4 separate regions of the Homo sapiens genome follow, and regions 2, 3 and 4 are each reported to be linked to region 1. The links are microRNA targets in miRTarBase. Many come from high-throughput screens and were not tested one by one. Region 1 holds a microRNA gene; each other region holds the end of a gene's coding sequence.

Evidence for each region. The annotated mature microRNA hsa-miR-6512-3p reads UUCCAGCCCUUCUAAUGGUAGG and lies in region 1 at 2,002-2,023, shown strand. An mRNA with a match to its seed (bases 2 to 7 or 8) in the 3' UTR can be bound and repressed. Matches are read on the target gene's strand: a 7mer-m8 pairs with bases 2 to 8, a 7mer-A1 pairs with bases 2 to 7 and ends in A, and an 8mer does both.
Region 2: miRTarBase lists AGPAT4 as a target of hsa-miR-6512-3p. Seed matches in the 3' UTR shown: 7mer-m8 at 424-430.
Region 3: the mRNA of DTX1 is a reported target of hsa-miR-6512-3p. Seed matches in the 3' UTR shown: 8mer at 2,552-2,559.
Region 4: the mRNA of DFFB is a reported target of hsa-miR-6512-3p. Seed matches in the 3' UTR shown: 7mer-m8 at 836-842 and 7mer-m8 at 1,480-1,486.

Annotation. Positions count from the first base shown.
Region 1 is chr2:177,312,747-177,315,833 of GRCh38, reverse strand. MIR6512 (microRNA 6512) reads left to right here and starts at 1,952; the gene lies at 1,952-2,028. The region is part of intron 6 of LOC100130691 (Putative uncharacterized protein FLJ44553); the gene reads left to right.
Region 2 is chr6:161,133,812-161,136,898 of GRCh38, forward strand. AGPAT4 (1-acylglycerol-3-phosphate O-acyltransferase 4) reads right to left here. Exons shown (of 9, transcript NM_020133.3): 9 at 1-2,823. The coding sequence ends at 2,729. Among named protein-coding and RNA genes, the nearest start is that of AGPAT4-IT1, 27 kb to the right of the region's middle.
Region 3 is chr12:113,096,738-113,099,824 of GRCh38, reverse strand. It overlaps DTX1 (deltex E3 ubiquitin ligase 1), which reads right to left. Exons shown (of 10, transcript NM_004416.3): 10 at 1,800-3,087. The coding sequence ends at 2,886. RASAL1 (RAS protein activator like 1) reads left to right here. Exons shown (of 21, transcript NM_001301202.2): 21 at 1-547. Among named protein-coding and RNA genes, the nearest start is that of RASAL1, 37 kb to the left of the region's middle. RefSeq lists enhancers at 1,316-1,575, 1,792-2,333.
Region 4 is chr1:3,883,136-3,886,222 of GRCh38, forward strand. DFFB (DNA fragmentation factor subunit beta) reads left to right here. Exons shown (of 7, transcript NM_004402.4): 7 at 372-2,294. The coding sequence ends at 606. Among named protein-coding and RNA genes, the nearest start is that of C1orf174, 16 kb to the right of the region's middle.

The sequences.
Region 1 (3,087 bases):
CTAAACTGAACACACCCATGTAACCAGCACCCAGATCAAGAAACAGAACATTACCAGCACCCCCGAAGCCTCCTCTGCAGGCACACTTTAAGAACCACTGGTCTAGGAAGAGCCCAGCTGGGGCACTGTCCTAAACCACCGTCCCGCCTTTACCTAGCAGGCCAAATCTGCATGCAGTGTCAGCTATTCCCAATCTGAGAGGCTGGGCCTATAGCCTCACATACACCCTTCATAGTGATGCAACTTCATTTGTAAAAAGGGTCACAAAGGGTGTTTCTATAATTTATATTCCTAGCATACACCCTAAACTGCTTAAAGCAAATGAATTCAGGTCCCAGCCAAAAAGGAGTGGAGACCAGTCACTGCCTGAAAGCATTGGCTTATTACAACACTCCAGCATTTTCTCACGGCAGGGTGAATGAGGTGGATTCTAGTGTAATTACCTTTATGTAATTGAAAACTAAATCACCGATGGCTGCAGAGTTTAAATATCCATTTAAATACTTTCAATTTATTCAGCTTATTTTTTCAGGACATGCTACTACCAAATAGGCTATTAATTTTTCTAATGGATTAAAATCTGAATAGGTACATTAAAAACTAGCATAGCTCAAATAAATGTCCTCTTTTTCCAAAGATTATTAAAGAGAGTTTTCTTTTTCTTTAACCCAGCTATTCAAATACTCTATTAGACCAGGACCTGTAATAATACAGGCCTTGTCCAGAAGGGATCAGGTTTCTATGTTATATAATTAGGCAAGACTTTAAATAGTAAGACATGCACCTGTGGTGCTTTTGTCTCTAACTCCACAAATTTCAACATGCATACAAATCAAGAAGGGGTGGGGGTGTTACATGCAAATTCTGCTTCAGTGGGTGTTGGAGCCTGAGATTCTGGCTTTCTAACAAGCTCCCAGGTAAGTGCTGATGCTGCTGCTTTGAGGGCCACACACCTTGAGGAGTAGGAAGAGTACTCATACTGGAAGAGTATTCAGCACGGACTGGAATCCTGCATACATATCTGAGCTCTGTGTTCTGGTATGTATATAGACTTTTTAAAAAAATTAGTAGAGATGGGGTCTCACCATTTTGGCCAGGCTGGTCTCAAACTCCAGGGCTCAAGAGATCCTCCTGCCTTGGCCTCCCAAAGTGCTGAGATTACAGGCATGAGCCACTATACCTGGCTTATATAGACTGCTTCTAAGGTCCATTCTAACTGTACAATTCCATGATTCAGTCACTGTTTGGCTATTAACTAATTTTTTTAGGCTTCTGATTCTCATTGTTTATAAGCTGCTATATTAGAGAATGTTCTGTACTGGAAGGCCAGATAAAAAGTCTTACTTATGGCCAGTAAGTTTTATTTTTCAATCTTCTACAAGTCTGCCTCAACCCATGGGAAATCTTGGCTAATAGTAACATGATACTGGGCTTGGACCATAAACTAAACTTGAGTCAGCAATGTAGGGCTTTGGTTAGATAAGCAAGAATGAACTTGGGAATATAACCAAAAGAAAGGGACAGCTAATCCTACCAGAACAGGCAGTATTTATATGAATACTTTTTTCAAATATCCACAACTGGGAAAAGCTGCTGAACACATAAAGAAAAGTTAAAAGCACGGCATTATTTAGCTAGTGAAAAGAGAACAAAGAATGCCTTAAGAATAATTTTTGAATGGCAGCAGAAACCAGCATATCCTGTGAAGTAAATGCATTTTCAGGACCTCAAAATAGATTTAGGTTGCCTCTAAAGCAGAACTTTCCCATGATAATGATGATCCTAGGTGGTAGGATTGCCAATGGTAATTTTCTTTCCCAAAGATTCTTACAACCAACCATAAACCTACTAGATAACCTATCAGTTGTGTTATTAACTGATATATCAGTTGGGGTTCAGTGCAGACACTTCTCTAGGTACTGAATGCTAAGAATTATATGCTTAAAAATTATATGCTCTTACCATTAGAAGAGCTGGAAGAAGGCTGAGGGAGATGCCTTCTTCCAGCCCTTCTAATGGTAGGAGCATTAAGAGGGATGCTGTTGGGCTCGCAGTTCAGTCCACACAGCTACAATCTAGAGGTCAGGAAGCTATAAAGTCCACTGCTGGCATCACAGTCATTTCTCACAGATGAAGTTAGTGGCAATGCAGAGGCACAGAAAGTCTGGTCATTAAAAACCACATTTAATGTTGCACGTACATCAACAACTACCAGTGAAAACTAATAGGCAGCCAGGCATGTTGGTGCATGCCTGAAGTCCCAAACATTTGGGACACTGAGGTGGGAGGATCCTTGAGCCCAGGAGGTCTAGGCTGCAGTGAGTTGTGATTGTGCCACTGTACTCCAGCCTGGACAGAACAAGAATCTTTCTCAAAAAATAAATAAATAGAGAGAGAGAAGGAGGGAGGGAAGGAGGAAGGTAAAAAGAGAGAGAGAGAAAGGAAGGAAGGGAAAGAAGAGGAAGGAAGGAAGGAAGGAGAAGAGAAAGAAAAGGAAGGAAGGAAGGAAGGAGAAAGAGAAAGAAGGAAGGAGAAAGAAGAGAAAGAAAAGGGAGGAAGGAAGGAAGGAAGGAAAACTAATAGGCAGGGGAAATAGCCTCTCTCTTCCTTTTACCTTTCTAATTTCGCATCATTATATCTGACTGGCACAGTTTAAATTGTTTAACAAATCCTATTAGCAGCTCAGCCTAGAATTATAGTTATTGAGCTTTGTTCCTAACTCAGTATAAATCTATCTTTATTGAAGTATAGCATACAGACAGAAAAATGCACAAATTATAATCAGAGAGCTTGATGAATTTTCATAAAGTAAACACACCTACATATTGCTAGCACCCAGATTGGGAGGCAGAAACTACTACCATACCAGAAGCTCCCTTCATTATCTTTTCTAGGCATTATCCTCCCTCAAATTGACTGTAATCTTGGCTTCTAATACCCTAGACCAATTTGGCCTATTTTTAAACATTAGACAAAATGGAATGATACAGTGTGTATTATTTTATTACTGGCTTTTCCTACTCAACTATTTGTGAGATTCATTCATGTTGAGAGTAATAATAGTATCTTCATTTTCATTGCTGTGTA
Region 2 (3,087 bases), not on the chromosome of region 1:
GGAAAGACAGACAGGAAGTGTAGCTCTTAGTCTATGGGGCTCTCCTTAGGGGACAAAAAGATGGCTTAGGCTCCGTGGGTTTTCAACTCGTAGAAAAAATAACCCTGGGAACCAAAGCAGTTGTTGTGTGCTGAGGAGATGGTGACCTCCGTGTGACCTGAACATGGGTGAAGGTATTTGAGGAGGCGTGATGAGCTTCCGTCCAGGAGTACCCGTGGTTGTCTGTGTCATTAAGGGCGCAGGGTGTAAGGAAACCAGGTTCCCAGGCTGCATAACAAAATTGTTCTTCGTGGACAGGTCAAATGACTGATGAGAAAGAGGTCCAGATCTCTCCCCAGCACGCCACATTCTCTTTCGGCTCTAAGGCAATTCAAAACTTGGCGCTCACTTAGTTATTTCCTAAGAGATTTCTGCCTGCATTCCTCCAGCCTGGAACCCAAGGCCCTAGCAGGCAGGCTGTTTGCTTGCTTGTGTGTTGTGTGATACCAGAGCCAATTCAGAAGAAAATTGAATGTCTGTGGGCCCCCGGATCTATGTTTTTAGAACTTACTTAGATTACTTCTGTGTTGAATGGAAGAATGAAAATGAGAAAAATAACACATTTTTAGTACGACAAGAAAATTTCTGAGCATTTTTGAGAGTAGCAACATAGAGGCAGCTTTCTAGTCTTTCATCCTTGGCTTAGTGCTTTAGGATTCTTAAAGTGTGCTCTTTTACCCTTGACACACCCCAAGAGGTAGATATCGTCACCCCCATTTTGCAGATGGGGAAATGAGTCAGCAAGGAAAAGTGTCTCACCCAAATCCTACAGCCGATGAGCTGCAGAGTTCAGGTGAATGGCGTAACTCAGCATCACGGACCCCTCCGAGAGACTGGCCCGATAATCCAGGCGCAGGTCCACTAGGGCGTGCTCACAGACACGCAAGGCTACACACCATGCACACCTCCACTTCTCCAAGGACCCCTCTTGCCTAAGGTCACGTCCTGGGCTTTTGCCCACAGATCTCTGCACACGGTGCTTCATGCCCTGTGCAGGGTGGGCAGATGTGCTGGGCGCTCCCATCAAGCCTGCCTGCAGGGCCGCCAGCGAGTTAACTCAGGCCCTAGGCTCTGCAGTACGCTCTTCCCACAAGTCAGCCAGGATTTTTTCCCTTTTTCACTTCTGTGGATTCAAATAATTCATTTGTATCAACAAACAAACAATGCATTATTGTCCTGTAAGCAGAGGGAGCTTCTCTAGAGCTGTCTTGTAACTCCTTGGCTTACCTAGTTTGGTTGATAAACAATGACTAAATGAGCAAATAGCCAAAAACATAACTGCATAGAATAGGCCTTATAATGTGTGGCCAGTTTTTGTATAGAGCTGTTCATTCCTTCTCATGTTACCACAGCAACACAGGCAGCTTTTCTCAGCAACTTTCAGCTGCGCACCTGGAGAAAGACATATCCTTCCTAACTCATGCTCCAAATACCTATCGGTCCAAGTGCCATTGGTGTCTTGGCCTAAGATGATTTAATAGCTAGCATTTGTTCTGCAAAAATAGCACTGCTTTTAGTTTCTTCTTCTTTTGCATTTTTGGCACCTGTTGGCTGACAGCAGTCTGCAAAGGCCGCTGGAGATGCTACAGGGCAGAACTATTCCGTGGAGTAAAATGGGAGCAGACAGGAGCCCGGAAGGAAGGCAGAAGCCTGGGGGTTTTTTGTACATGGGATGTCGGCTCTGATTTGACCCTCATCAGAGCAGGACCTGGCTCCTTTAGGGCTGCAGACAAGCTCTACATGCTGGGAAGGGGCGAGGCATTTTATAAAGTGAAACTGCATTTTATCAGGGGTGACTTTGGCTGTCACTGCTGAGAGGAACAGTCGATGCAAGCTCATCTCACAAATCACTGCAGAATGCCCAGGCTGTACGTTCATGATGTTTGTGTTCAATTTCAAGATCCATTTCTTCAGGGAGTTGGGTCCATCTTCAAGACTTACGCCAGGAGACTGCACTGCAGAGACCGAGCGAAACTCTCCCTTGCTGTGTGCCAGGGACACGCTTCGTTGGTCTCCACGCACGTGCTTGCCATCTCTGCTCTCACAAATGCTCACGGGCTCCTGGACCTGTGTCTCCTGCCAGGAGCTGTGCTGGCCTGCCCACCCCTCTCAGCTGCCCACACCTCCGCGGCAGCTGCCTCCCGTGAGTAGGATCTGAAACACCAAAGCCACGGGCAAGGGCAGGATGGAGGGGCAGCGGTCCATGTCAACATACACCACAGATGACCCAGAAAAGCACTTTAATTTTTTTTTCTTGGAGGCATAATTTAGTCATCTCACCTAAAGCACTTTTCACTTTATCTCTGGCAACCAAGGGTTACAGAAAACTCAGCACCAAAGGATGAAAGGGGAACTTGTCCCCTTCGGTCCCCAGCCCTGCCCTCCCCTGCAGCCTAAAATACCCTTTCTATGATCACAGAACAAAGTTCACACTCACCACACAGCCATTCTCACACACACTCGCACAAAAAGAAAACCAAAGCCCACTAAAGCACATGGGGAAAAAAAGATTACAAAACATCTTCCTCCCCATCCGGCCTTGAGACCAGACTCCCTGGCTGGAGAGGTCGTGACTTCCGCCGTGCCCAGCAGGGGCTCACCCAGCCTTTGTCACCGTGTCCCACTAAGGAGGATATGCAGAGGCCACCAGTTCCCCAAGGTTCCCTTCGGATGGTGACACCTCCCTGAGTCAGTCATTCAGTTTCTGCTTGCTGTCAGAGTTGCCGTAGGCAGAGCCCTTGTCAATTTCCGTCACACCAATCATCCATCGAACTCCCACGGAGGCTGCAGAGACAAGGAGAGCAGAGTTAGGAGTAGCCCAAACAGACTACAGGGCCGTTTTCCCACAGAGCAAGTGAGAAGGCCCGTGGCCGCAAATCACAAGCGCCAGCTCAGAGCTGGCTGGCGGGTTTGAGGTGCCATCATCCTGCCGGCTTTACAATCATCCTTGAGTGTGGACATCCATGTGACATTAAGACAAAGCAAGGCTGCTCTGGTGGGGGTTTTCCTCCTTGGACCCTGAAGGTGAATGATTTGGCAAGCCATGCA
Region 3 (3,087 bases), not on the chromosome of region 1:
TGGTTTGGAGGCTCCCAGAGACGTGCCTAGTCCTGTGTGCCTTGAGTCCAGAACTCAGGGCATGGAAGCCCTTTGGCAGGGGCCAGCCTTGCACTGAGTGAAACTTGCCCTCTGGCTTGATTCAGACTGGAGTGGATAGGATAAGGAACCTGACTTATTTGACTGAGACTGGGGTCTCTACTTCACCAAACTGGCCTCTATCCATACCAAGGAGGCCAGCCTGGCCCTGAGCTGCTGGATACAGCTGGACCTGAATTCCTGATGCCCATGTGATGTTGTTGCCCCAGATGGGCACTAAATGGCCTCACTCCTTCCTGTTTTCATGTCTGCTAATCCCTATAACCTCACTGATTCTTCTGTACCCTGCCCTTGGCCTAGGACTCCAACCACAAGCTTCCAGAATCAGGTGCCCTCAGGAAGAACCAAGGCTGGGTGGGGGTCCAGTGTGCCAAACTCAGACCCTTGGAGCCTGGGAGACCTTGGGCCAGGCTGTTTATCTCTCTCTGGGTCTCAGATTACCCTGTATAAAAAGAGGAGGGAAAGTCTAGATGTGTGGTTTTCAAACTGGATTCCAATGAGGTAGTTCAAGAACAAGGGAGGAGTTTCTCTGACTGTGGGCCAAAGACCACCCGCTAGAATGTCTGCTAGAAATGCAGATTTCTGAGGCCCAGCCAGCTACTGACTCAGAATCTGAGGGTATATGAAGGCAAGAATCAGGGTTATTTAACAGATTCCGTAGGTCATTTGGATGAGTATCAGCTTTGAGGACCACAGGCCTGGGGAATGGGCAATTTTATTTTATTTTGTTTTTAGAGTTGGGGGTCTCACTCTGTTGCCCAGGCTGCAGTACAGTGGCATGATCATAGGTCAGTGCACCCTCAAACTTCTGGACTTCAGTGATCCTCCCACGTTAGCCTCCAGAGCAGCTGCGACTACAGGTGCAAGCCATCACGCCTGGCTAATTTTTAAATTTTTGTAGAGATGGGGGGTCTCACTATGTTGCCCAGGCTGGTCTCAAGCTCCTGGCGTCAAATGAGCCTCCCGCTTCGGCCTCCTTAGTTGCTGGGATTACAGGTGTGAGTCAGTGCCTGGCTTGCAATTTTATATGCCAGAGTTTGGGTTGAGGTTTTGTCTGAGAATGAACCACGGAGTACAAATGTTTGGGAACATGTGACTGGCAGAACTGGAAGGGCCTCCAAGGACTCGTTTCCGGTGTTGTGTCACTAGGGGGTGGGACAGAAACCAAAGCCTACCTGGCAGGGGATCAAGTGGACCAGGAAAGACACGGCGCTATCCCGAGGGTGGCCAGCAGGGGTTGCCCGAAGCCGCAGCATCCACCAGAACTACAGGGGCGTCCTGGCATGTTGCAGAGAGGCTGATTTAAGGCTGGGGTCCATCCCTGTTTTTCCCTAGTTAGAACCTGACCCTCCTCCCCAAGGACAGGGTCCTGACAAGCTCTGAGATCCTGATGAGCTGATCACAGTGTCTCCCAGCTCCTCCGTATTTCCCTCGAGGCTCCCAGCTCTGCACCTGAGTTCCTTGTTTCTTGTCATTGTGCCAGGGAGCAGATGTGTGCATTGCCTTGTGCTCTTGTGAAAGAGAAGGGCACTTTCACCTCTGCATTCTTGGAGACTAGGACTAGGAGGGTCTGCCACTGCTTCACCGCCCCCACCCCTTCCAGCCCGAGGCAAGGACCCTGAAGTCATTCTCTTGCAAGCCATCACTCCCCAACGGGGCTGACTGCAGCCCCCAGGAACAGAGCCACCCACCCCTCTCTTGGCAGGAAAAGACCAGGCGAGGAGGAGAAAGACCATTTATTTCTCCACCCACAGTGGGACTGGTAGGTTTTGAAAAGAGCAATCGCTGGCATCCCTTTAAATCTTGGCTGACTCCCACCGTGGCAGCCAATCAGCAGAGGCGGAGCTGGTGAGTTGCCTGGGCAACAGGCCCCTGGTTGGCCGAAGACAATTAGCCACCCCACTGCCCACTCCCAACGAAAGGGAAATTGACTCTCTGCTGTCCACTCTGCTTTAAAATACATCGGCCCAAACTAGGCCTCCTCCTTTCGCTCCTGAAGTCAGAAGCGCCAGCCTTTGGCTCTCAAAATTGGGAGCGATTTGGTGGAGAGGATGGGGTAGGGAGGATGGGAGAACAGCGCCTTTATCTGGGACAGACAGAAGGCCTGGAGATGGGAAGGGAGAAGGAGATCAGAGTCCAGAGAGATGAAGAGGCACAGACACAAAATCAGGACCCTCTAGTCCCCGCTCGTGCTGGCCATTCTTTTGTAGAACTGCTCAGTCATCTGGGGGCTTCCACCCCATGGGCCCACAATTGCCCAATCAGTGGGTGGCAGACATGGGTGATGACACGGAATGGGTGAGGCATCTGGGGTACACTGAGTTTCCCGAGTCCCTCTTTGCCCCCCGAGCCCTGGCAGGCCCCTAAGGGCTTGCCCCGCATCCTCCAGTTTGCAGACAAGGCTGTACAGATGCAACTGAGACACAGATGGGGATCCACATGGGGGGGTCATGGGGTCTTTCTGTCTCTTCTCTTCCAGCCTGGGGGCAAGTACAGGCACGTGGGTGTGCGTGCATGAGTTCAACAGGACATGTGTGTTTGTGTGTGAGGGGGCGGGTCTCTGTCTTTTTGGTAGGGAGGTTTCCAGTACTCTCTGCTTGGCCCTCTCAGGGAGCTATGATTCGGGGCCAGCCTGACATGCCATCTCTCTTCATCCCAGCTGCCACCAGGCAGGTCCCCTGAATGGCTGCGGCCCCTTCCGCAGGCTCCTCCCCAGCCCTGAACCTGGGCTACCAGGACACACCTGGCGAAGGAGGCATTTGCCGGACCAGGGGCAAAGCAGGAGGGAAGGTGGGCAGCCTTGGGCCTCAAGCCTTGGCTGCAGCCTCGGATACGCCCTGGGCTGTGAGCTCAGCCAGCACGTTGTCTAGGTAGCTAGCGTCCGGGTAGCCGTGGCCCGTGAGGTTGGATCCAAACTCGGTCTTGTGGTGGATCTCGTTCCACACCACGGTGTCCGACTCGCCCGTGGTGTTGGACGTGCCGATAGTGAAGATGAGTCTTCTCTCCCAG
Region 4 (3,087 bases), not on the chromosome of region 1:
TGGGATAACAGGTGCCCACCACCAAGCCCAGCCAATTTTTTGTATTTTTAGTAGAGATGGGGTTTCACTATGTTGGCCAAGCTGGTCTCGAACTCCCAACCTCAAGTGATCCACCCGCCTCGGCCTCCCAAAGTGTTGGGATGACAGGCGTGAGCCGCCGTGCCCGGCCACAAGTCAAGTTTTAAAAAGTAAGAGGAGCCAGGCTGCTTGCATCAGGCTCTGCTCAACAAACCTGGCCAGTAGGTGCGGCCGTGTGTCCGTGATAGCACTTAGGGGAATTTGTGAAGAGCTGTGACTGCAATACACTGCTATGACCTGTTGCCTGTGGCACTGTGACCACAGAAAATGATGTCTCTAACCTTACTTTGCAGAATAGAAAAGAAACGCACCATCATTCCTACACTGGTGGAAGCAATTAAGGAACAAGATGGAAGAGAAGTGGACTGGGAGTATTTTTATGGCCTGCTTTTTACCTCAGAGAACCTAAAACTAGTGCACATTGTCTGCCATAAGAAAACCACCCACAAGCTCAACTGTGACCCAAGCAGAATCTACAAACCCCAGACAAGGTTGAAGCGGAAGCAGCCTGTGCGGAAACGCCAGTGACACGTACACACCACGTCCTGGTCTTTGTTTGAGGCCTGACGTGGGCATCATTTTAACAGGTGCCTTTTTTGTTTTTTTGTTTTTCGTTTTTTTGGTCACTCCAGTAGCTCCTGGAAAAAACCTTAAAAAATGTTTCCTCCAAATCTGATTTCATTACATTTCTGAATTGTTGGGGTTTTTTTTGTTGTTTTGTTTTGTTTTGTAGATGGAGTTTCACTTTTGTTGCCCAGGCTGGAGTGTAGTGGCGCGATCTCGGCTCAGCCTCCCGAGTAGCTGGGATTACAGGCATGTGCCACCACGCCCGGCTAATGTTTGTATTTTTAGTAGAGACGGGGTTTCACCATGTTGGTCAGGCTGGTCTCAAACTCCTGACCTCAGGTGATCCGCCCACCTCAGCCTCCCAAAGTGCTGGGATGACAGGTGTGAGCCACTGCGCCCAGCCTGAATCATTTCTTATACCTTCTGACAGCCCAACTTCCAGAGGACAGCTCTGGGGTACTCGTTGGATGTCTGTGAGTACCTGGTCATACGGGTCAGTAGGGATAAGAATTGTCTCTGGGCTGAGGAATTCTTCTGTTCTCTGGTTTCACCAGCGTTGGGTTTGCTCATGTAATGTGGTCACCATACTCAAATGGTGTCATGGCTGAAGTTGGCCACCTTGCTTGAGGGACAAGTTGTTTATGTATCAGCTCTCTGCTGGGTCTCCCTTTCCATGGCAAATGGGCAGCTCCATCCTCTTGACTCTTCTAAATGCCCAAAAGAGGTGTCATGCTTTGGGGGTACGATGTTTATACTCCGTAAAGAACATACAAGGACATTCACTGCTGATTTTTTTTTTTGTTTGTTTGAGACAGGGTCTCACTCTGTCGCTCAGGCTGGAGTGCAGTGATGCAATCTTGGCTCACTGCAACCTCCGCCTCTCAGGTTCAAGTGGTTCTCCTTCCTCAGCCTCCCAAGTAGCTGGGATTACAGGCACCTACCACCAGGGCCAGCTAATTTTTGTATGTTTAGTAGAAACGGGGTTTCACCATGTTGGCCAGGCTGTTCTCGAACTCCTGACCTCAGGTGATCTGCCCGCCTCGGTCTCCCAAAGTGCTGGGATTACAGGCATGAGCCACTGCACCTGACCTGCTGAATTGTTTATAATGGCAAGAAATAGGAAACCCCCCAATGTCTGTTGAACAGCTATCACGTTGAACCACGTGAAACTGCTGTTTTCTAGGCCAAAAATGGTGAGCGATCATTTATTTCATGATTCAACCTGATACATTTACATAGTGCAAAACTGTGTCACAGTTTCAGGCTTTTATGAGGAAAGCGTTTCTGTGTAGAAACTGGAAGCTGTTCAGGGCATCGGCAGCTGAACCCTGCTCCGTTGGTCAGCGTTACTATCATCTCGGATCATATGGAGCTCATGTCAGCCGTGTGGGTGGCGGGTGCACAGAGACGGTCTGGAAGGAAACACGCGGATCTGAACAGCAGTAATCCTGGGGGATACGGGGGTTGGGCTAGATTACAGAGGGCTCATTTTCTACGTCATGTATTTTATGATACTTGAATTTTTTGAAATGGGCATTTATTTTATAACATGTTAAAATGTACTTTTTAAATTAAGTCATTTTGTAATATTTGAATTTTTACATTTGTTGTACAATCAGGAAAAGCAATAAAGATTTTTCAAAAATAGACATGTCAAGAAAGTTTGCACTCATTGAGGATGCTGAAAATAAGGATAAAAATAAGGAGTCTGTGATATTTTACAAATTGACTTCATTTACAAATTGAGTCATTTTACAAATTGACTTCAATTTTACAAATTGACTACATTTTCTTCACAGAGCTAAAGCAATACCTTAGAATTAACCCAGTCCTGTGTGGGGAATTTCTAGAAGTCCCATCTATGGTACGGTGATGTTTATCTGCTCTGATCAGGGAAGGACAAACAGTGGGAGAGTCAGGGCCTGGGAACCGGGGGGCCTGGTCCCTCTTCTCAGATCCCTCTTGCAGGGTCTGAAGAACTCTCTGGAGCCAGCAGATCCCACCTGTGCAGCAAGGAGCCTGGCCCGGACAGCTGTGAGGCCCTTCCAGCTCCATCGCTCCAGCCTCAGGAGACGAGCTGCTCTGTTTAACAGCCACAGACGTGGGCCTTTTTCAGAGACACATTCTTTTGTTGTCTGTCTGTTTTTTAAGACAGGGTCTTGTTCTGTCATCCAGGCTGGAGTGCAGTGGTGTGATCTCAGCTCACCGCAGCCTTGAACTCCTGGGTTTAAGTGATTCTCCTGCCTCAGCCTCTGCAGTAACTGAGACCCCGGGCATGTGCCACCATGCCTAGCTAATTTATTTTTATGTTTGTAGAGATGGTCTCACTATGTTGTCCAGGTTGGTCTCAAACTCCTGGGCTCAGGCGATCCACCCACCCTGGCCTCCTGAAGTGCTGGGATTACAGGCGTGAGCCCCTGCACCCGGCGCAAGACACATTCT